Homo sapiens: one gene and its partners. The protein of the gene in region 3 interacts with the protein of the main gene of each other region in a pairwise test. Each region holds a gene or a part of one and is shown on either strand. Other genes may lie near its edges.

The links.
Region 1: the proteins of BRWD1 (region 3) and HIP1 interact in binary tests that used the Homo sapiens proteins (3 or more experiments, as listed by UniProt).
Region 2: the proteins of BRWD1 (region 3) and HDAC7 interact in binary tests that used the Homo sapiens proteins (3 or more experiments, as listed by UniProt).
Region 4: the proteins of BRWD1 (region 3) and HMOX2 interact in binary tests that used the Homo sapiens proteins (3 or more experiments, as listed by UniProt).

What each region holds. Positions count from the first base shown.
Region 1 is NC_000007.14:75,546,924-75,553,961, reverse strand, and holds part of HIP1 (huntingtin-interacting protein 1), read left to right. Parts: intron 1-372; coding exon 373-509; intron 510-4,960; coding exon 4,961-5,071; intron 5,072-6,148; coding exon 6,149-6,207; intron 6,208-6,929; coding exon 6,930-7,023; intron 7,024-7,038. UniProt on the Homo sapiens protein: Plays a role in clathrin-mediated endocytosis and trafficking. Involved in regulating AMPA receptor trafficking in the central nervous system in an NMDA-dependent manner. Regulates presynaptic nerve terminal activity.
Region 2 is NC_000012.12:47,782,187-47,788,906, reverse strand, and holds the end of HDAC7 (histone deacetylase 7), read left to right. Parts: intron 1-742; coding exon 743-862; intron 863-1,097; coding exon 1,098-1,195; intron 1,196-2,203; coding exon 2,204-2,322; intron 2,323-3,021; coding exon 3,022-3,155; intron 3,156-3,435; coding exon 3,436-3,520; intron 3,521-4,689; coding exon 4,690-4,828; intron 4,829-5,020; coding exon 5,021-5,066; 3' UTR 5,067-6,185; downstream 6,186-6,720. UniProt on the Homo sapiens protein: Responsible for the deacetylation of lysine residues on the N-terminal part of the core histones (H2A, H2B, H3 and H4).
Region 3 is NC_000021.9:39,184,977-39,191,665, reverse strand, and holds the end of BRWD1 (bromodomain and WD repeat-containing protein 1), read left to right. Parts: 3' UTR 1-4,248; coding exon of another isoform or gene 4,249-4,640; 3' UTR 4,641-6,184; downstream 6,185-6,689. UniProt on the Homo sapiens protein: May be a transcriptional activator. May be involved in chromatin remodeling. Plays a role in the regulation of cell morphology and cytoskeletal organization. Required in the control of cell shape.
Region 4 is NC_000016.10:4,507,380-4,510,867, forward strand, and holds the end of HMOX2 (heme oxygenase 2), read left to right. Parts: intron 1-333; coding exon 334-825; intron 826-2,032; coding exon 2,033-2,159; intron 2,160-2,249; coding exon 2,250-2,377; 3' UTR 2,378-2,968; downstream 2,969-3,488.

The DNA of each region.
Region 1 (7,038 bases), on a different chromosome or scaffold from region 3:
AACAGCCTGGCCAACATGGCAAAACCCCATCTCTACTAAAGATACAAAAACGATGGGCCAGATGCAATGGTTCACGCCTGTAATCGCCGTAACACTTTGGGAGGACGAGGTGGGCAGATCACCTGAGGTCAGGAGTTCGAGACCAGCCTGGCCAACATGGCGAAACCCCGTCTCTACTAAAAATACAAAAATTAGCCGGGCATGGTGGCGCACCCGTAATCCCAGCTACTTGGGAGGCCGAGGCAGGAGAATCGCTTGAACTCAGGAGGCGGAGTTTGCAGTGAGCCGAGATGGCGCCACTGCACTCCAGCCTGGGCAACAAGAGCGAGACTCCATCTCAAAAAAAAAGTGTCTATTGCCTTGTATCTCCAGCACTGACCGAGGCCTGTAAGCAGTATGGCAGGGAAACCCTCGCCTACCTGGCCTCCCTGGAGGAAGAGGGAAGCCTTGAGAATGCCGACAGCACAGCCATGAGGAACTGCCTGAGCAAGATCAAGGCCATCGGCGAGGTACTTGGAGTAGTATCATTGAGGAGCATTGTTATTCTTCTGGGTGTGCGTGCTGGTGAATGGCCAGGGAATCGGTGATGTTCTGAGCTAGTTCTTTCTGCACTTAGAACTTGATTCTAGAAAGAGATTGTTAAAATTGGAAAATCTGGCCGGGTGCAGTGATTTATGCGTGTAATCCCAGCACTTTGGGAGGCCGAGTCAGGAGGATCACTTGAGGCTAGACGGGATGGCTCACGCCTGTAATCCCAGCACTTTGGGAGGCTGAGGTGGGCAGATCACTTGAGGTCAAGAGCTAGAGACCAGCCTGGCCAACAGGGTGAAACCCTGTCTCTACTAAAAATACAAAAATCAACCCAGCATAGTGGTGCATGCCTATAATCCCAGGTACTGGGAGGTGGAGTCAAGAGAATTGCTTGAACCCAGGAGGTGGAGGTTGCAGTGCACCGAGATCATGCCATTGCACTCCAGCCTGGGCATAAGAGTGAGATCTATCTCGAAAAAAAAAAGGATCACTTGATCCCAGAAGTTTGAGACAGGCCTAGGCAACAAAATGAGACCCTGTCTCTTTAAAAATTAAAAAAAAAAAAATTTAAAAAGGAAAAACCTCCTGAAGGACTTTCCAGCTATATTTAATTCACTGGCTGTTAGCTGAGAATCTACTATGTTGTCATCATTACACTAGGCAATATCAAAGAAGTATAGGCAGCTCCCCTGTCTCTGAGGATTTTTATCTAGGTGGGCAGGTAATACCCAAAATGGAAATAACACTGTGTTCATTCATTTACTAAAGATGTAGTGCCGAGCATGGTGGCTCACACCTGTAATCCCTGCACTTTGGGAGGCCGAGGCAGGAGGATCACTTGAGGCCAGGAGTTCAATATCAGCCTAGGCAACATAGTGAGACCCTGTCTCTACAAAATAAAATTTTTTTTTTAATTAGACAGGTGTGATGTCACGCACCTGTAGTCCCAGCTACTCGGGAGGCTGAGGCAGGAGGATCGCTTGAGCCCAGGATTTGGAGGCCACAGTGAGCTATGATTGTGCCACTGCACTCCAGCCTAGGCAACAGAGTGAGACCCTGCCTCTGCTATAAATAAATATGTCCTGTATACCAGAAATTGGGTTAAGTATATATAGGGACAGAGAAGACATGGACTCTATGGAAAAGAAAAATAAGAAAACCATTTCTATGCAGTACAGTTTTTTTTCATTTTTTCCCCAGTGTTATGAATTGGAATATATTGGTTAAGATACAAGGATAGGGCCAGGCACGGTGGCTCACGCCTGTAATCCCAACATTTTGGGAGGCCGAGGCAGGTGGATCACCTGAGGTCAGGAGTTCTAGACCAGCCTGGCCAACATGGCAAAACCCCATCTCTACTAAAAGTACAAAAAATTAGCCAGGCGTGATGGTAGGCGCCTGTAATCCCAGCTACTTAGGAGGCTGAGGCAGGAGAATCACTTGAACCTGGGAGGCTGAGGTTGCAGTGAGCTAAGATCGTGCCTTTGCACTCCAACCTGGGCAACAGGAGCGAAACTCCACTCAAAAAATAAATAAAAAATAAAAGCCATGAGGATAGACTGTCTAATTGGAGTTCCAGAAGAAGATAATAAAAAGACCACATCCAGCCAAGGTGGGTGGATCAATTGAGGCCAGGAATTTGAGACCAGCCTGGGCAACTTAGTGGCGCCCTGTCTCTACAACAAATTTAAAAATTGGCCGGGTGTGATGGTGAGCACTTTTGGTCCCAGCTACTCAGGAGGCTGAGGCAGGAGGATCACCTAAGCCTGGGAGCTCAAGACTGCAGTGAACCGTGTACTCTGCAGTGAATTGCAGAGTGTACTCTGCAGAGTGGTTCACCTGCAGTGAACCACTGTACTCCAGCCTGGGTGAGAGAGTAAGACCCTGTCTCTAAAAAGAAAAAATAAAAAGATCAGGGCCAGGTGTGGTGGCTCACGCCTGTAATCCCAGCACTTTGGGAGGCTGAGGTGGGTGGATCACTTGAGGCCAGGAGTTTGAGACCAGCCTGGCCAATATAGTGAAACTCCATCTCTATTAAAAATACAAAATTAGCCAGTTGTGGTGGCTAATTTTGTAATCCCAGCACATACCTGTAATCCCAGCTACTTGAGAGGCTGAGGCAGGATAATCCTTTGAGCCTGGGAGGCGGAGGCTGCAGTGAGCCGAGATTGCACCACTGCACTCCAGCCTGGGCGACAGAGTGAGACACTGCCTCAAAAAAAAAAAAAAAAAAAAAAAAAATTATCATCTACATCTTTGCCTCCCTAAATAATAGAGTTAGTTTCACATGATATAGACTACAGGTAAATGGAGTCCTACTGTATATATTCTTCTACAACTGGCTTTTTCACTCCACATTCTGTGAGATTAATCCAAGAAGATAAATTCATTTTCACTGCTCTCTCATTATCTATTGTGTGAATATCGCTTAATTCATCCGTCTGTTCTCTTGGTGATGGACACTTGGGTTATTTCCAGTTTGGGTTGTTATTAATTTGCCCCTATGATCATATATGCACACATGTCAGTTTCTCTAGAGTATATACATAGAATCAGAATTACTAGGTATTAGGATGAATCTCACACATAGAATGTTGAGTGAAAAATCAAGTCATGGAAAAATATATACAGTAGGATTCCTTTTATATAAAGACTCAAACATTCAAACTTAATAGGGATGCATCTATGTGGAATTAAAAAATAATAATAATAAGACAGGCCAGGCATAGTGGCACATGTCTGAAAATCCCAGCACTTTGGGAGGCCGAAGCGGGAGGATCACTTGAGGCCAGGAGTTTGATACAGCCTGGGCTACAAAGCAAGACTCTGACTCTACAAAAAAGTTTAAAAGTTAGCAGAGCCTAGTGGTGTGTGCCCGTTGTCCCAGCTACTCAGGAGGCTGAGGCAGGGAGGATCACTTGAGCCCAGGAGTGGGAGGCTGCAGTGAGCTATGATCGCACCACTGCACTCTAGCCTGGGCAACAGGCTTTTATGTTTTGTCTTTAAAAAATAAAAATAAAATAAGACACAACAACCACGCTCTTGAATTCTGTGTCTCTTGGGGTAGAAGGCAGGGAGTAAGGGAGATAGAATCAGGGCACATACAAGTTCAAATAGGATTCCAAAGGTATTGATGTTTCTTACAGCATTCCTTAAGTTTTAAGTTGGGTGGTGGATAACATGCGTCTTTATTCTTATCCTTTGAACCATTCATATATATTTTATACCTTAGTATGTATAACACATCATGTTTTAAAAATCATAGGCTTTGCTGTTTGTCAGACCTTAGTTCAAATCCCTGCCCTGCCATTTGTTACCATAACTGTGGTCAAGACGTTCTACCTCTGATCCCTGGCTTCCTATCTGCACAGTAGGAATAATACCCGCCTCATATGATCACTGTGGAAGCAAAGTTAAGTCAGGGTCAAAGTGGAAGATATCATCTGTATTTGAAAAAGTTGTAGGCCAGGTATAGTAATTCAATCCCAGCACATTGGGAAGCCAAGACAGGAGGATCACTTGAGCCCAGGAATTCAAGACCAGCCTGGGCAACATAGTGAGACCCCATCTCTATTAAAAAAAAAAAAAAAACAATTATCCGGGCTTGGTGGTGCACCTCTGTACTCCCAGATACTCTGGTGGTAGAGGTGGGAGAATTGCTTGAGCATGGAAGGTCGAGGCTGCAGTGAGCTATGATCATGCCACTGCACTCCATCTCTGGTGACAGGGCAAGACTGTGTCTCAAAAAAATAAAAAATTAGGGCCAGGTGTGGTGGCTTACACCTGTAATCCCAGCACTTTGGGAGGCTGAGGCAGGAGGATTACCTGAGGTCAGGAGTTTGAGACCAGCCTGGGCAAAATAGTGAAACCCATCTCTACTAAAAATATAAAAATTAGCTGGGCATGGTGGTGCAAACCTGCAATCCCAGCTACTTGGGAGGCTGAGGCAGGATAATCCCTTGAGCCCGGGAGGCGGAGGCTGCAGTGAGCCGAGATTGTGCCACTGTACTCCAGCCTGGGCAACAGATTGAGACTCTGTCTCAAAAAAAAAAAAAAAAGAAAAGAAAAGAAAGAAAGCAAAAGAAAAAGAAAAATTGTAAAAAAATACCTCCTGTGTAGCTAGTACAATTGACACTGCACAACTAAGGGACTGGGGTCTTAGTGGTGGCGGAATGGCCTTGCAGGGGGAGGCAGCGATGGCATTCTGGAAGGAGGTGGATCCTGAGTGAGGAGGAGCATGAGGTTCCAGAGTTTGTGTCACAGAGAGGACAAGATGGGGTCTGCAAAAGACCCCCCCACAACCCCTGTGGCTTGCAGAAGGTGTTTGCTGGGTGGCCTCCTGCCTTGCCATCTTGTAAGGGTTACAGATGGCAGAGGAGAAGAGACAGGAGGCCCCAAGGTCAGTTCAGCCTTTGTGATGTGTTCACAGGAGCTCCTGCCCAGGGGACTGGACATCAAGCAGGAGGAGCTGGGGGACCTGGTGGACAAGGAGATGGCGGCCACTTCAGCTGCTATTGAAACTGCCACGGCCAGAATAGAGGTAGGAGGTTCCTGCAGGATCTCCTGAAACGATGCCTTTGCAGCTGCCCTTCTGCAACACTGCTCATTAAACATGTCACAGTCGTTCATTAAGGCCATGGCAACCCCCTAAGACAGAAACCAGAATTTGCCAGGCACAGTGGCTCATGCCTGTAACCCCAGCACCTTGGGAGGATCACTTGAGTCCAGGAGTTTGAGACCAGCCTGGACATCATAGCAAGACCCCATCTCTACAAAAGATAAAATAATTAGCTGGGCATGGTGGTGCATGCTTATAGTCCCAGCTACTCCAGAGGCTGCAGGAGGATCACTTGAGCCCAGGAATTGGAGGCTACAGTGAGCCATGATTGCACCACTGCACTCTAGCCTGGGTGAGAGAGTGAGACCCTGTCTGTAAAAATGTTTTTAAATTATAAAAAAAAAAAAGAGAGACCAAAATCTGAACTCGCTAGTTTTTCTGAGTGATAGAAAATGAGAAGGTCCTCATGAGAGAAGGTCCTCATGAGAGAAGGTGATTAGTTTCCTCAAGAATCAGATACTTTGGTGTCAGAACATCCTGGGTTCTGGCCAGGCGTGGTGGCTCACGCCTGTATTCCCAGCACTTTGGGAGGCCGAGGCAGGCAGATCATGAGGTCAGGAGTTTGAGACCAGCCTGGACAACATGGTGAAACCTGGTCTCTACTAAACATACAAAAATTAGCTGGGCGTGGTGGCGCGTGCCTGTAATCCCAGCCACTCAGAAGGCTGAGGCAGAAGAATCACTTGAACCCAGGAGGCGGAGGTTGCAGTGAGCCGAGATCGTACCGCTCACTCCAGCCTGGGTGACAGAGTGAGACTCCATCTCAAAACAAAACAAAATGACACGGATCACAGAGCCAGCCCACTGCAGCTGCACTCCCCCTGAATAGGTTAGAGTCTGGATTCTTTTCTGACTCTCTCAAGAATGTGGGCAGGGACTTGGGGACTTCCAGATTCAGGTTTCCCAGCTACCACACGATGTTGGACTGAAAGTATAGTAAGACATTAGTGGATCCTTAATATTCAAGGCACATTTAGAAACCATGCTTCTTTTTCACAGGAGATGCTCAGCAAATCCCGAGCAGGAGACACAGGAGTCAAATTGGAGGTGAATGAAAGGTCGGTCTGAGCGGCATGGTGGGACCTAGGGGAGCAGGATCTGTCTTCCTGACATTGGTCTATACTTTGCATACTTATTAGGGAATTAGAGGAGAGCAGTAGCAGCCACGGGGAAGGGCTGAGTTGATGTAATCATCAATAACAGTATTAATGATGACAGCAATATTGCTGTTTCACTATAGAAAAGAAACCCGCGCGGTAGCTCCCGCCTGTAATCCCAGCACTTTGGGAGGCTGAGGAGGGAGGATCACCTGAGGTCGGGAGTTCGAGACCAGCCTGCCCAATGTGGTGAAAAGTCATCTTTACTAAAAATACAAAAATTAGCCAGGCGTGGTGGTGCATGCATGTAATCCCAGCTACTTTGGAGGCTGAGGCAGGAGAATCACTTGAACCTGGGAGGTGGAGGTTGCAGTGAGCCAAGATCGTGCCTCTGCACTCTAGCCTGGGCGACAGAGCAAGACTCTGTCTCAAAAAAGAAGAAAAGAAGTCCTAGGAATCACAATTTCACTATTCCTTACGATGGAGACCCACAATTAGATCTCTCTCACTCCCCAGCCTCTCCTTCGGTGCCTCCCCGCAGAATGTTCCAGCAACCTCAGCACCCTTCTTACCTCCCTTTCCCATTCCAAGCTTGCCTTTGGCTAGGAGTGGGGAAGAGAACCGTCGTGTTCATTGATCTTGGATCTTGATCTCAGTGTATCCTCGACTTGTTTGTTTGGCAGGATCCTTGGTTGCTGTACCAGCCTCATGCAAGCTATTCAGGTGCTCATCGTGGCCTCTAAGGACCTCCAGAGAGAGATTGTGGAGAGCGGCAGGGTGAGCGTGGGTGTG
Region 2 (6,720 bases), on a different chromosome or scaffold from region 3:
ATCACATCCAGACACTGATGGTTTTACACATGATGGATTTAATCCTGACTATAACCCACTTTACAGATGAAAGTGAGCACAGAGAGATTAAGTAACTCACACACAGTCATTCGTAAGTCATGAGATGGATTTGAACCCAGGCGGGTTAGCTCTAGAGTGCTTGCGTTTAACTGCTAAGCTATGTCCCTTCTGCACTGACAGCTGTGTAAGAGACATTTCTAAGCAGAAGTTGAGAGCGGTGGAGGACCTTTGCACACTTGAGTTCCCGCATGGTCCTGTGAGTCGAGTGTAGGGCCCAGCTCTCCCTACGAGGGATGGGGCTGGGCCTCGTGTACCTGCCCCTCTGTAACCGAGCTTGGTTTCTGATCTCCTCATAACTTCATGACTTTATGCAAGACAGAGTGGTTCCTGATATGTGTAACCCTGAACCCTTCCCTCTCCTTGCCACTAACCCCATGTCCACACAGTTACTCTCTCAGGTGGGCTGGCCTGAGATTGGGACACCTCCTCTCCTTCAGGATCTCATATTACAGCCAGCCCTGTCCAGCACAGAGAGGCCGAGGTTCAGAGCCGGGCAGTGGATTACGTGGGGCCACTCGACCGTGTGGCTTTAGGAACCCCAGGTTCCTGATCCCAGTCTAGGGTCCTGACCTCAGAATGGCCACTGACCTTGAAACCCTTCTAACCTGTCCTGGCCCCCATCTCTCTGCCTTCCCTAATCGCTGCCCGTCTCCCTACACAGGACGTGCACCATGGCAACGGCACCCAGCAAACCTTCTACCAAGACCCCAGTGTGCTCTACATCTCCCTGCATCGCCATGACGACGGCAACTTCTTCCCGGGGAGTGGGGCTGTGGATGAGGTAACCGCATGTCAGGGCCACATCTTCCAGCCTCATTGACCTCCTCCTGACACTTACTCTGCCTCTGTCATGACGAGCTGTGTGATCCTGGGCAGACTGCTGAGCCTCTCTGATCCTAAACTTCCCCACCTGGAAATGGGGAGGCTGGATGAGCTGGGCTGGCAGCTCTAACAAACTGGTGTTCCCCTTCTGGGACTCTGCTGTCCTCATGTCTCTCTTGCCTCCTGTTTTCCAGGTAGGGGCTGGCAGCGGTGAGGGCTTCAATGTCAATGTGGCCTGGGCTGGAGGTCTGGACCCCCCCATGGGGGATCCTGAGTACCTGGCTGCTTTCAGGTACGTGCTCTGGGGGCCCAGAGGGGCAAGTCCACCCTCTCCTGTCCCTTCTCCCAAGAGCACCAGGGGGGAGGTGATCAGTTGGATTGTCAGCCTGTCCCCACCAGTTCCTAGACATTGTAGGTGAACGCCAGTGAGAATAGGACAAACAGAGAGAAGAATGCAAAAGTCAAAGGGTGCTTTGCAAAGGCATACATTACCGAGAGCCAATGTCAAACTGATTGCTGGCAGGTGGGTGGTGGAGTGAGCAGAGCTGGCACATTTAGTCAGAGAAGGCTGCCACTCTATTTGGGAAAAGAGAATTCTGGAAATGGATCTTCAAACACTTTTCTGGAGTTATCTCCATGACAGCTAATTCTACGAGAGCCCTGGGCTGGAGTTCCTGGAGTCTTCTCAGAGCCCAGGGCTATGAAGAACACCCAAGCAGGCCCCAGAGTTGGATCAGGGGTAGAGGAAGGCAGCTGGGGGGGGGCCTGGAAGAGGGAGAGGATGAGAGAATGTAGCCAGGTGGCGCAGAACCTCAGAGGACCTAGTTGTCCCCTACTCAGCTCTCAAGTAGTGAGTAGCTGGGTGTGGTCAACTCAGTCCAAAGGACTGAGCACTTGTAGTCCCTGAAGCTTTGTGACCAGAGTCCATCTCCGCAAGGCTGTGAGATTACCCTTTCCCTGTGGCTCCGGCCACTGCACCCCACAGATGCTTGCATGCACACACACACATGCACACACACATGGTCACACACACTCCTCTTTCATTCCCTCTGGTGCTCCATCCTTGGCTCCTTTCTGCCTCTTGCTAGTTAAGTCCCCTAGGGGGCTGAGTCCTTAGGCTGTGTGTGCCAGGGACATGGGTGGCCAGCCAAGGTCAAGGAGGTCAGAGAAATCTGCCAGTTGTGCTGGGGCACTGGGAGCCTTGGAGTCCTAAGAACAGGGTGCCCCACCGCAAAGTTGGCAGGACCGCCCCTGGCAACCCTGCACAGTACGATGATCGCCACTTCTTGTGACCTCACAGGATAGTCGTGATGCCCATCGCCCGAGAGTTCTCTCCAGACCTAGTCCTGGTGTCTGCTGGATTTGATGCTGCTGAGGGTCACCCGGCCCCACTGGGTGGCTACCATGTTTCTGCCAAATGTAAGGGAGCCTCAGCTGAGGGGGACGTTAGGGACAGAGAGCCAGGCGGTGCGGGGAGTTGGGAGGCACTCCCAAGTCAGAAAGGGAAGGTGGCAGTGGCCAGCCCAGGGCTTTCAGCCTGAGGACTGGAGTATGGCAGCTGGTCCTGAAATTCCCCGGGATCTCCTAGCCGAGCACAGCCCAAGCCCTTTCTCAGGACCAGGCCGGTTCACCACGGAGGGCTTGACCAGGTCATACCCATGGGGACTTAAGTCCAGTAGGCAGGAAGCTCAGCCGTGGGACTCCCCACCACAGCTGGGTTGATTCCAGGTGGGCTGGCAGCTCCTCCAGAGGAAGGGGAGAGAGAAGCAGCACTCTCAGAATAGAGGGTGGCCACAGGGCCCAGAGTACAGAAAGAAGAGAGGGTGTAGCTCAGTGAAAAAGACACAGGCTAGAGTCAATGACCCAAGTTCAGGTCCTACCTTGCTGCCACTTACTAGCTGTGGGGCCTTTCCCAAGGCCCTTAACCTCCCTGAGCCTTGAGTGAAGCATACTAGTAGGTTTTGTACGACATTCAATGTGAAAGCACTTTGGAAATAGTGATTGATACATGTGAGTCATTCTTTATTAGGGAGGAAGCAAGCAGGGAAGCCACAGGGGTAGAGAACAGGGTCACCTCTCCACTCCCGCCCCTCCCATTTCTCCCCTCCCAACCTCTAGGTTTTGGATACATGACGCAGCAACTGATGAACCTGGCAGGAGGCGCAGTGGTGCTGGCCTTGGAGGGTGGCCATGACCTCACAGCCATCTGTGACGCCTCTGAGGCCTGTGTGGCTGCTCTTCTGGGTAACAGGGTGAGCCGTCTCCCTCCCCCATCCATGCTTCTGTCAGGCAGGTAAGCCCGGCTCTCAGGACTACCCAAGGAGCAGGCAGATGGGATGGGACAGGGTGGGAGTGGCCAAGCCTGAAACAAGGTAGGCGAAGCGGAAGCCTCTGTTCCAAGTTAGGTCCAGGCAGCATCTCCTGGCCTAGGTAGAGTGTGCTTGTGGCTAGAAGGCTGGGGCCCCTGGGGTGGGAGTGAGCTGGGCCTGTGGGTCCCTGAGAGACTGGTGGCTGATGTACTGTTTTCTATAGGTGGATCCCCTTTCAGAAGAAGGCTGGAAACAGAAACCCAACCTCAATGCCATCCGCTCTCTGGAGGCCGTGATCCGGGTGCACAGTAAGTGTGGAGATGGGACACTCGCTGAGCTCAGACTGAAGGATCTTGGTGGTACCCTGCCCCACCGTGGCCAGATCCTAGGGCTTCCGGTGCCAGCCAGGTGACCTGCTGTTGGTCTGGAGTAAGATTCCTGTGAGTGACCCAGGCAGCAATGGTGAGCACCCCCCAGTGAGGGGTTATCCTCTGAGCCCCCCCGATGGAGCCAGCAGGGCCTACCAGACAGTGGCCCCTCAAGGTAGGGACTGGCCTCCATCTCTAGCGACAGCCCTAGACCAGGGCCAGGTCAAGAGCAACACTCAGGCCTTGTTTGCCAAAAGGCCTGGTTCCCATCCCTCCCCTCAGTCCTGGCCACAGGCGTCTCAGGAGCTCTGCTGGCTTGGGGGCTGCGTCTTGGGATAACCCCCACATTTGTAAAGTACTTTAAATTTTCAACTTCAACTCAACATCTATTGAGCATCTTATGTCAAGACCCATAATCTATACTAGGGATAAAAATGAGTAAAATAGATTCCCATATCAAGGGCTGGGTAGGGGAGCCGTGATGTCTTTACATAATGGTAAAGACATGGCTGATTCCTCTTACGGTGGGTGCCCTCACACTGAGCCAGATTCCAGGACATGGTTCCTCACAGCAGCAGGCAGGAGGAGCATTCTCCTGGCCTGGGCACCCATGCAGAGCGGCCGTGGTGATGGTCAGTTCTCCCATGTTGTGTTCGTCCCACCTCCCAGGCCCTCCTTTCCTGAGTGCTGGGCTGAGCACTGGTGGGGGCTGTGTTTAAGTGGGAGGCCCGAGCTTGGGGCTCTGGGAGGTCACTGTGACACAGACCCTGTCTGCAGGCAAGCAGGCTCTCCTGATGCTCTCAGGAGCCCCGCACCTGTGGGGAATGAGTCAAAGGTGGCCTTGCAGCCACAGGGGATGAGAGAAAGGCTGGGCACCTGCTAGGACTCCCTCACAGCCATGTTGAACCCACTCTGTGTACCCTGTCAGGCTGTGCGGGAGTGGGAGCGAAGTGAGGAGAGGGGCAGGTGGGAGAGCCGACCCTAAGTGGAGGACAGGCCCGCTCCTCCGGGGCCCTGGGCCTGAGACACCAACCTCAATATCCGGTCTAGGACGCAGTGTGGAGGGGCTTGCTTTCTCCAACCCTTTCTGACCTGGCATCTTACCCCAGGTAAATACTGGGGCTGCATGCAGCGCCTGGCCTCCTGTCCAGACTCCTGGGTGCCTAGAGTGCCAGGGGCTGACAAAGAAGAAGTGGAGGCAGTGACCGCACTGGCGTCCCTCTCTGTGGGCATCCTGGCTGAAGATAGGTAATGCCAGACCCCTGGCCCTGGGCCCACAGCCTCTCCACCGCTTCATTCCTCCCTGCTTGAAGACCCCGGGTCCGCTATGCAGCCACCCCAACCCTCCCAGGCTTCCTGACCAGGGTTGAGAGGAAGCTTAGCTAAGGCCCTTGCTGCAGCCCTGGTGCTCCAGCATCCCACCCTTGTCCCTCCCCACAGGCCCTCGGAGCAGCTGGTGGAGGAGGAAGAACCTATGAATCTCTAAGGCTCTGGAACCATCTGCCCGCCCACCATGCCCTTGGGACCTGGTTCTCTTCTAACCCCTGGCAATAGCCCCCATTCCTGGGTCTTTAGAGATCCTGTGGGCAAGTAGTTGGAACCAGAGAACAGCCTGCCTGCTTTGACAGTTATCCCAGGGAGCGTGAGAAAATCCCTGGGTCTAGAATGGGAACTGGAGAGGACCCTGAGAGGAGACGGGCTGGGCGGCGACCCCCACAGGGCTCTCGAGAACAGATTCTCCCCTCCAGTATGGGCCCTGGCTGTGGCCCCCATTCCTCAGGACTGCACAGAGGAGGACTGGCTCCGGCTCCGTCGGGCTCACCCTTAACCACTATTCCTGGCTCTGCAAACCCCAGACTTTGCACACAGCCTCAGGCTCCACACAGAAATGTGAACTTGGCCTCAGACAGGCTGGCCCTTCCTAGGCTCTAGGGGCTAGGGGGGAGTGGGGAGCCAAGAGGTCCCATATTCCTGAGTGCAGGGGTAGTCCCTCTCACCTGCTTCCTCAGACGACTCTGGAAGCTTCCCTCTACCACTGGGCACTGAGACGAAGCTCCCTGACAGCCGAGACTGGCAGCCCTCCATCTGGTCCGTACCCTCGCCAGAGGCCCCCCTACATCAACCTCCTGGCGATGCCCTGGTGGAGCAGATGGGTGCTCTGGGAGTCCTGTGCTTCCTGATCCAATGGTGCCAAACCCTTCATCTCCCCAAGAAGCGCAGCATACCCCTGGGACCCCTCGGCCACTGCCCACTCGGGGAGCCTTCTCTGTTTCTGGGGCCTCCCCCACCATAGCTCTGATTCCCACCCCACATAGGAGTAGCCTGACTGAGGGGGAAGGGGTGGGAGAGAAGATACAGACATGGAGGAGGGGAGGCTGCTCTGGCAAAGTCTTCAAGGCTTTTGGGGGTCCAGGCCTGGGGTCAAGAAGGAAAATGTGTGTGAGCATGTGTGTGAGTGAGGCGTGTGTGTGAGCGTGTGTGTGAGTGAGGCGTGTGTGTGTGTCTTTCCTAGGACCCACCATACCCTGTGTATGTATGCATGTTTTTGTAAAAAGGAAGAAAATGGAAAAAAATCTGAACAATAAATGTTTTATTTGCTTTAAAAGTGCCTCTGAAAGGGCCCCCCAGAAGTGAGCAGTGCGCCGTCAAGCGGGTGTGCAGGGCACACAGCTGCACGGCACAGTGTGGGTCTGAGTCACTGCCGGAGGAGGGACCAGGGTGGTCTGGGCCGCAGCCCCTTTAACAATCTGCCCTTCCTGCCCTGCAGGAAGAACCCATTCTGAACACACCCTGGCTGTCCCTGGCTGCCCCACTTTGGGGTGACAAAGAGGAGGCAGCCCTGGGCTGAGTCCACAGAGACCAGCCCTGATATGGCAGGAGTGGGGGTGGGGTGGGGGAGTGGGAATACAGGAGCTCAGCCCCAGCTCACCACGGCATCCCCGAAGAGTTGTGACTCAGACACACCTGGGTTTAAGTCCCAGCTGGGAGCTCAGGTAAGTCAAATCGTCTTCTGGGGCCTCTGTTTATCAGTAGAAGGCTCCAGAAGTATACACTGTTGATGGCTCCTTCCCGCTCTGATGCACCATGCCTGATTAAGCATACACTGAGCCTAGAAGAGAGAAGGGGTGAGGCACAGGCCT
Region 3 (6,689 bases):
AAGGGATCTTTAATTTTTGATATATTCAAGTTAATTTTCTAAATGTGAATCAGTCCTTGGACTGCAACTATATATTCACCTACAAAATCCCAATCAAAAAATTACATGAGCCTGTCAAGCAGATCTTTAGTTTTCCACTTCACATAAGATCGTTAATGTTCTAAATTAATCTATTCATTTAGATGATTTTTGTCAGTTCTTAAATGGGATATAATAAATTTAGCATTTTCATCTTAACAAGCAAAAGAGTTAAAAAACAAAACAAAACACTACTCCAAGCCAAATACATTCTAGCTGGTTAATTCCAGACTTGTCCCAAGTGGTTCCCCAACCTCTTTTCCACTGGTAATTTCTTTTCATGCAGGCAGAATATAGGGGTGCGAGCGCTGTGAGTTTTACATATGAGCTTGGATAGGGGAACTGAAGCGAGTCAGGAGCCCTGCTGGAAAAGGGGTTTGCCATTGGATTGTCTGTGGCCTGGTTTCTTTCCAGTAGTACAGTAATAGGGTAGATTGAAAACAAGTATTTACTTCTGATTCTGCCTGCATTTAGTGTGAAATGCTCTTAAGGTATTGCTTCTAAAAAGCAAATTAAGCAGTTAAGTATAAAGTCCCTGAATTCATATTTCAAAATAAGGCTTTTATGAGATTTTTATTAAAAATTGCAATAGCCATCACAAATCTGAGTTTTTCTAGGGGTGAGAGAAAACTGTATTGTGATGAGCTAGATTAGTTGTAGTTCCAGAATAAGAACAAAAATTCAGAGTTGTGTGGTGCCCATCATTGAGTAAATGAACCCTAAAAATGAATAAGCTAATGAACTAGTTCATGGAATTATTTCTGATGGTCTTTTGACCTGATGCTGCCATACTGCAGTGTTACCAGCTCCCCCTAGAAAACGGAACTGTTTAAAAACACAGCAAGTTACAGAAACCATTTTATTCTACAGCCATTGGGGTACTTCAGTTTATGGGATGTTTTTGGAAACTTCTGCTTTGGGAGGGATGAAGATCATTGATAAATGTTATTTGCTTTCTGAGTTTTGGGGTCATTTCATTGCTTATCAATGAAGGGCAGACAGAGGAGAGAATATCTCAAGTCTTTTCTGATAAAAGGCTTGCTTGAGGGAGCTTATAACTTGCACCTAGAGGGTTTACCCACTTTGTGGATTTGATTTATCCACCAACCACAGCAACCAATAATGTCAAGATTCTAGGAGTTTATGAAAGAGGCTAGTATGTTTTCATTTTGAGTCAGACATTCTTTTCTCATTCTCAAATCTGTTTTAAATGCTCCAATTTTAAAAATGCCAATGAAAATTTTATAATGCTTCTGTAGTAACCATATGCAGTTTACTTTGAATTTAGGAAAACAGTTTTGTATGATGAAATATTGTGCAGAATCTGTAAATAAGGTAGCTTAAAAATTAAAAAAAAGTCTAATTAGAATATGATTAATCCTTGAAATGTAGAAACTAGAGATTGTGTTGAGTCAGAACTGTTATGTTTGTATCCAGGTTTCTATTCACCACATATACCATCTTAGAATACACACATATCTGTGAGTTATAATTTAAAGTGGTCATCCAGGGAAATGATCATGGAGTGCTACTACAGATGTACAGTTTTACACTACTGATGTGTTCTTGCCATACCCAAGTAGGGAATCACTTCCAGGAAAACAAGTCCTCAAGCACTCAATGACTTTGTAAACCCATGACTGAAACAAGACTCATCTGAGGCAGTAGGACTGGTGGGATTCTACTGACTTCTTAGTATCACATGGCACCATCACAAATGCATTGTTAGAGCAGCAACATCCAGAGTTCTTAAGCTTGTACCCTAACACACAAATTTGACTTCTAACCCTGAAATATCCTATATATATTTCTAAAACTGTTTGTAGTTTTCTTGAGAAAAAGCACTTTATAATTTACTCAGTTTTCAGTAATAAAATTAACACTGACTTGAATGTATTTAAAAAAATTCTCCACAGTTTTGTCTTCCTCAGATTGTTTTTATCCTTATTCTCTGAAATTCCTGTTTTATTGTCTAAGACTTAAGAGATTCAGCTTTATCAAGTTAGAGTACAGTGTAATTCAAATTCTCCCTCCCTTGGGCATAGTTACTGAAGTTCAAATTTCCTTAAGTATTTTTTAAAAACCTGATTTTAGTTTTTTTTTTCCTGCAGAATCTTAACTTTTCCATTATTCTGGATGACAAATAAACATTTATTAAAATGTGTTAGAATTAGTATTTACTAGGTTCCTAAATTGTCAGTATAGGTACTTTGATCACACATCAAAATGGAATTTCTGCAACTTAAAGCATTTTGTTACAAATTGTAGTTGAAATAGAATTTTATCTATTTGTCTGGATGAATAGGTTGTTGGGAATGAACCAGTTATCTGTTCTTTTCTTCCAAATGCAAATGGTGCAGCTAGTTGATAATAGTATATTCTCATCCTACTATAAAGTGCAAATTTCACCTTAATTTTGCATATTTTAAAATTTTTGTTTACCCTTTGTAGCATATTTACATTTTAGCATTTGCTAACATTGATTTAATGTGTTAAAGATTCATTTTGGATATAGGGTTGACTTGTTGGAGATACTAGTTCATAATTTTAAAATTCCCAAGAGAAGTGTCTTTGAAGTGGTAAACACAGTGCACTTTAAGCCACTTCTCTTCCCACAGAGTCCAGCTGAAGGAGGTAAGGGCATGCTGCATGAGAGTAATGCCGTGATGAGTGTCTTACTCTGGTAAAATGCCATTTACAATGCCTGGAGACTGAACACTGAACAAAACATAGTGCCCTTAGAATTTCACTGGAAAAACATGTGAATCACATAAGTTAGTTGGCAAAAGGAACTGATGTGTATGTGGTGGGGTTGCTTTGAATAAAGTATTTCCTAACCTATTCTGGGGAGAACGCTCAACTGATCTTAGAGAAGTGTGAAATCAGTTTCATAGACTTAGGGAAAAATCTGAAGTGCTTGCACTGTGAGGGCAGAGGCCTGCCTCATTAGTCTAGCTGTATGAACATGTCAGTCCACAGAAGCAGTTTTTACCTGTACTCATCTGCCCTTCAGTCAGCTTTGTGACAGAAGGGCAAACATCTTCACAGAAGAAAAAGTTCAGAAGGTTGGCATTGGTGGTTTCATTGCTACAGAATAATAGTGTTACTTGATAGTATCTGACTAAAAGAGCTCTCATTTTCTAGTACTTAGTAGTAAAAAGAATGTGGTGGAGTCCTCCAGATGTCTAGTGTGGGTGGAGGATATCAACTGGTTATTTCAGTGATCTACAGCCTTACCTTTTGAATGCTAAATGTCTGGAAACTTCAGGCAGGGTCCTACAAAACAAACTGCCATCAAGATTGGTGTGTACCATGAAGGCAGTTTTAGATAGTTTGACTGTTCATGGCTGCAAGAAAGACCTAAAATTCAAGGGCCCGTGAACTTCAGATACGTAAAAGGAATATCACTTCTGTTCTAGAAGAGTACTAATTAGACTTGTTTGTGAAATTTGAAAATTTGGCTTTGAGACACTGGTAACAAACATATCTGAGCCCTCCTAAGTTTGGTCAGCACGGAGTAGTAGCTCTGGCATCATGTGGCTGTGTAGAGCTCCAGTGTGATTTCAAGCCCCCTCTAAAAACTGCCTTAGTCTGCATGAAGTAGTTAACTCTCCAAAGTGCTTTTTGTCTGGCAAATCCCTTCACAATTTTCACCTCTCGTCTAAAAGCTTCCTTAAAGGAAGCCTTCCTTGATCCCTTAGGCTAGGTTAGGTTTCCAGTCTGTGTTCTCATAGCACTCTGCACTTTTTGGTTCCTTAAAGCAACTCTGTGTTATTTTTTAGAATTTTAATCTGAATCTCGTGTGTCACATACCTAGGTCAGAAAATACTGGAACAATGAAGTTAAGATTTAGTAATTCAAATTATGTAAAATGCTCATATATATGTTTTTAGATTAGCAGCTTTATGATGCCGATGCTGAAGGAACTTTTCACCCCATTCTTACAAGTCTGCTACTGTTTTAAGTGACATCCTTATAGTTGTAGATAAGCAAATGTAAGGTTATATCAATGTGAAGAAGCCCTTAGTATCACATTTTAAAATTTATCATTTAGCAATATGACTTTTAAATTTATTGTTTCCGAATGAGTGTTGTTGAGGAATGTTAGCAGTAGTAAAATCTTGTGTTACAAGATTTTTGCATTTACATGAACTTTCACTCATTTTTCAGAATTTGTTCCTAGAGACAGAGAACCCAATACAAAAGTGAGAACATGTATGCATAATCAGAAGGATGCAGTGCAGATGCCTAGTGAAACTCTGAAAGCAAAAATGGTACCTGAGAAAGTTCCCCGCAGATGTGCTACTGTTGCTGCAAATAAAATAAAGATAATGAGTAATCTAAAAGAAACGATCTCAGGACCAGAAAATGTCTGGATTAGGAAGAGTAGCAGAAAACTGCCCCATCGAAATGCTTCTGCTGCGGCTAAGAAAAAATTACTGAATGTTTATAAAGAGGATGATACAACCATAAATTCTGAAAGTGAAAAAGAGCTAGAAGATATTAATAGAAAAATGCTTTTTTTAAGGGGGTTCAGATCCTGGAAAGAAAATGCACAATAGTGACTATGAGAATGTAGAAGTGGCATCTGAAAACAATTGGTACACAAGTAAACTGGCAGTTACATTCTGCTCCCAGCTCTAAAATTACTCCCTTATTGGCATCTTTGGAGGAATTTTCTAAAAGCCATAATCCAGTGGGTTCCTCCCAGTCAGCTCTTGTACAGACATGTGCTCTGGGGAATTCTGAGGAGGAAATAAATTGCAGAGTCTGTAGGTGGAGAGGTGGAAAGAAAAGACAAATGGCCTGCTATAAGACTACTATTCCTTTCCAGAATGCAAGGCCTTGAAGACATGATTCCTTAGAGGAAGAATATAATGGGAAGTGTACAGGCTAGGAAGAACTTGAAGTGAACAAATTTCAAAATCTTAACCTGATGCTAATTTTCAGGGTTCTCCATTACAGTGTAAAAATTCAGACCACGACAACTATGGTGTCATGAGGAAAAAAAATCAGGCATTTTTCCAAAGGAAGTGCTAATGGGCCTATTTGACTTCTGAGTGAAGCAAAAACTACCCAGATCCATTCCCTACAATTCACATCCCCAAAGGTCAAAAACAAACTAGGAGGACCTGGGAATTTCAGCTGGAGATACTGATTATTGAGTTCTGAAGTAGAGTGTTGGAAATAGGCAATTAGAGAAAGTCCATTGATGTCATTTTGTTTATAATATTGCAGTTCATACTGAATGACCACTTGATATGACTAATTCAGGGAATATATATTTTTCTATGAAAGCTATGAATGTTACTATCACGGCTTTTCCTTATTTTTACTTGTATGTAGCAGCATTTACAGAAATGCCAAAAATGTGCCTCATTAAGAGGCAGGTCTTAATCAGTTAGATAAAAATAAAATGTATAGCTTAAGATCAAAACAGTCATATTTTTAGATACAGTGAAATCTTTTATGTTTCTCTACAGCACCTTAAAAATTAGAACTTGAATACTTTGAGTAAACTTACTACAATCTCATCCCAACAAACTTTAATGGTAGCATGTTTGGCCTATTTCATTGTGGCCTGTACTAGGATTAGAAAATTTGGTCGTGGTATAACAAAGAAGTGTATTTACAATAGGATTTAATTTGTTGTTAATATGTATTTGTTGAAATTAAAATTGCCAGATTAAATGAATATACTGTCGCATCTTTTTAACATAGTAACGTGTTACTGGAAAAATTAAGTTGTTGAAAGTAAGTTGTTTTCCCATTTAAAAATATCTGAATATATGATTTGCATGTGTAAATCTGAAAAACTAAACTACAGAAACCTAGGGTTTTCTATTTCTTTTTTAAGTCAAATGCATTTTTTTTTTTTTGTTATACAGATGAACCAAGTGTCTAAAATACTTGAGAAATTTGTGGTTGCATGTCTGTTTTAAAAAAAAGGCTTTTTGTTTTTTAGCATAAGCCAGAATATTCTAACCTACTAAGTCTGTGTCCTTTGCTCCTTTTGTAGTATACTTTCATCTAAATTACTGATCCCCAATATGTTGATACACAGGTGAGAAAGGGAAGAATTCCTAATAAACTGCTATTACTTTTAGGTGCATGGGGTTTGATTTTTGAGCTCTAATGAAATGCTTAAACTTCTTTCCAGTTCAAATTTTACACTTAATTTATAATATTTATTGAGTATATTATGTCCTCAACAAGTAACTATAAAATGAAATACTTAACTCGGTGAAGACTATTTTATGCAAAGTTTTTTTTTTTTTTTTTTTTTTTTTTTAGCAATTTCAGTGTAATGAAAGAATTTAAGCTTTGAATTTATAATTTGCTGTGGTGGGGTTAATTTCTGTCAGTATTTGAGATTGTATTATCAGTCTTGCATAATGAAATCCTTTTTTGGCTAAGTATTTAATTCGAACATATTTGCCTTTTTAAAAAGTGCTTGGCCTAAACTTATTGTAACTGCATGAAATAAGCATTTGCTTAAAACTTAACATTGTAAAATTGTTCTCTCTGAAATGTGTGCAGAATTTAAATCATGGCCAAATGTATTACTATTACCCTATTTACAGTAATTTGCTTTGCAGAAAATATTTCTT
Region 4 (3,488 bases), on a different chromosome or scaffold from region 3:
GGTTACAGTGAGCCGAGATCGTCCCACTGTACTCCAGCCTGGGTGACAGAGCGAGACTCTTTACCCCGCCAAAAAAAAAAAAAATTGGTTCTCATGGCTTAGATAGAATAACATAGTGGTGTGAAGGAAGCAAAAGTATGCGTGTTCCAAAGACTTCACCATGCCATTCCTTTAAGAAACAAAAGCTTCCTTGTGTGTTAAATAATTCACTACATAAAAATGGACCATAGGATTGGGTCTTTGGGGTTGGGGGTTGTCACTTGAGCCTCTGCATCCAGCTGCTCGGATGTGGTGTGCTCAGGCATAGCTGGCCTCCTCCTGTCACCTCCACAGCTGGCCACCACGGCACTTTACTTCACATACTCAGCCCTCGAGGAGGAAATGGAGCGCAACAAGGACCATCCAGCCTTTGCCCCTTTGTACTTCCCCATGGAGCTGCACCGGAAGGAGGCGCTGACCAAGGACATGGAGTATTTCTTTGGTGAAAACTGGGAGGAGCAGGTGCAGTGCCCCAAGGCTGCCCAGAAGTACGTGGAGCGGATCCACTACATAGGGCAGAACGAGCCGGAGCTACTGGTGGCCCATGCATACACCCGCTACATGGGGGATCTCTCGGGGGGCCAGGTGCTGAAGAAGGTGGCCCAGCGAGCACTGAAACTCCCCAGCACAGGGGAAGGGACCCAGTTCTACCTGTTTGAGAATGTGGACAATGCCCAGCAGTTCAAGCAGCTCTACCGGGCCAGGATGAACGCCCTGGACCTGAACATGAAGACCAAAGAGAGGATCGTGGAGGAGGCCAACAAGGCTTTTGAGTATAACATGCAGGTACTATTGGGGGCTGCCAGCTGCTAGGGCTGAAGAGGGAAACTTTGACAGTGGTAGCAGATCCATAGTGGCCCATGAAGGCACACATGGCATTAGGACAGATGAGCTGCAGGGTGCCGAGAGGAAGGTGGCCACCAGATTGGCCACCAGAGCTTGTGGGCCCAGTGGGTGGTTCCCAGCATGGAGGCCTGGTGTGATAGATGCCAGTGGGTAGTGTTTTGGGAAGGGTGAGTCCTCTCGCACATAGAGGGGTCTGGAAGAATGGAGCTGGCTTCCTCCCTCATTGCAGGATGCTGGTCTTGAAGAATGGTTAATTTTCTTTTCAAGTTTTGCTCTGAGAAGCCCTGCTTTATAAGTTAATAGAGAGCCAGTGCCACCAAGGAGAGTAAATAAGCTCTGTTTACAAGTAGCCTTTAGATGAGGCTGAACCTGGGGAAGCTTACTCTGTCCCCAGGTCCTGTCAGCTTCCACTGAGGCCTCCCAGGGCACTCAGGATGAGTATGCCCTGCCACAGTCTCATTCTCCCATGTTCCAGGTTTTCTGTTGCTTCTTGATAAAAAAATAACCAGCACCTAGAAATGGGGATGTACTCATGCCCTCCTGTCTGTGCTGTGGTAGTTTCAGTGGCTTGAGCCACCTCAGAGAAGGCTACATCTCTGGTCAGTTCCCAGGGGAGACCCAGCATTTGGCAGCCTTCTTGGGGTACCAATATCCACACCTCCCCAGAGCTCTTGCTAGGGAGGGAAGACCATCAGGCAGTGCAGCTGCCGCCCACCAGTGCTGCTTGCTGTGTAGTTGGCACACCTGAGCAAGCTCACCTGCTCCAGCTCACTCTCTCTGGAGGGCGTCCTCTAAAAGGAGAGTGTAGCCAGGCGCAGTAGCTCATGCCTGTAATCCCAGCACTTTGGGAGGCTGAGGCAGGGGCATTACTTGACCCCAGGAGTTGAAGACCAGCCTGGGCAACCAAGGTGAGACACCATCTCCCCACAAAATTTAAAAATTAGCCAGGTATGGTGGTACACACACGTAGGAGGATAAGGTGGGAGGACCACTTGAGCCTAGGAGTTTGAGGCTGCAGTGAGTTAGCCATGTTCATAACACTGCACTCTAGCCTGGGCAACAGAGACCTCATCTCAAAAGACATTTAAAAAAAAAAAAAAAGTATGGGCAGCCCAAAGATGGCTCAGTCGATCCTCTGCTCCTGCAGATATTCAATGAACTGGACCAGGCCGGCTCCACACTGGCCAGAGAGACCTTGGAGGATGGGTTCCCTGTACACGATGGGAAAGGAGACATGCGTAAATGCCCTTTCTACGCTGCTGAACAAGACAAAGGTAGGTCTGTGTGTCCTGAGCTCCCCTCCTGGGGCAGGTGTAGCAGGAGACTCCACTGATGCCATGTCTCCTATTGGTGCTGCCACACAGGTGCCCTGGAGGGCAGCAGCTGTCCCTTCCGAACAGCTATGGCTGTGCTGAGGAAGCCCAGCCTCCAGTTCATCCTGGCCGCTGGTGTGGCCCTAGCTGCTGGACTCTTGGCCTGGTACTACATGTGAAGCACCCATCATGCCACACCGGTACCCTCCTCCCGACTGACCACTGGCCTACCCCTTTCTCCAGCCCTGACTAAACTACCACCTCAGGTGACTTTTTAAAAAATGCTGGGTTTAAGAAAGGCAACCAATAAAAGCCAGATGCTAGAGCCTCTGCCTGACAGCATCCTCTCTATGGGCCATATTCCGCACTGGGCACAGGCCGTCACCCTGGGAGCAGTCGGCACAGTGCAGCAAGCCTGGCCCCCGACCCAGCTCTACTCCAGGCTTCCACACTTCTGGGCCCTAGGCTGCTTCCGGTAGTCCCTGTTTTTGCAGTACATGGGTGACTATCTCCCCTGTTGGAGGTGAGTGGCCTGTAAGTCCAAGCTGTGCGAGGGGGCCTTGCTGGATGCTGCTGTACAACTTCTGGGCCTCTCTTGGACCCTGGGAGTGAGGGTGGGTGTGGGTGGAAGCCTCAGAGGCCTTGGGAGCTCATCCCTCTCACCCAGAATCCCTCTAACCCCTTGGGTGCGGTTTGCTCAGCCCCAGCTTATCTCCTCCTCCGCGCTGTGTAAATGCTCCAGCACTCAATAAAGTGGGCTTTGCAAGCTACCTCCTTCCCTGCCTCCTGGCACCGGGTGGGTCAAGCCACCTCCCCATAGGAGAGTCCCTCAGAAGCAAGGGCATGTTATGTCTGTGTGGGGAGTGGACATCGTCCATCATGGCTCCCAGCAGCCACCTCCTGCTCTGGGTCTACTCTCCAGCACCTCTAGTCTCCAAAGCAAAGTCACTCTAACCGTCTTGCAAAGATCTTTAAAGTGTATCCAGCACTGCTATTTTTTAGCTCAGAAATACCTTAGAGGTTTCCTACTTAAAAGGTTTTTTTAAAATATATATATATATTTAAAAATAAGGGTTTTAAAAAAGCACATATTTGTATTTAAACAATTCATTCTCTAAAAGAGAAACATGAACTTAAATAATTTTATTAATAGGAATCTACTACCTGTAAAAGTTTTATTTCAAAAAGGGTTAAAAAGTAGGGAAACTCTTTAAACTACTGACCAAGACTGCCACCTTCATAATTCAGATGAGTTAGTGCAGAGATGGCCAGGGCCAGAGGTCGCCCAGA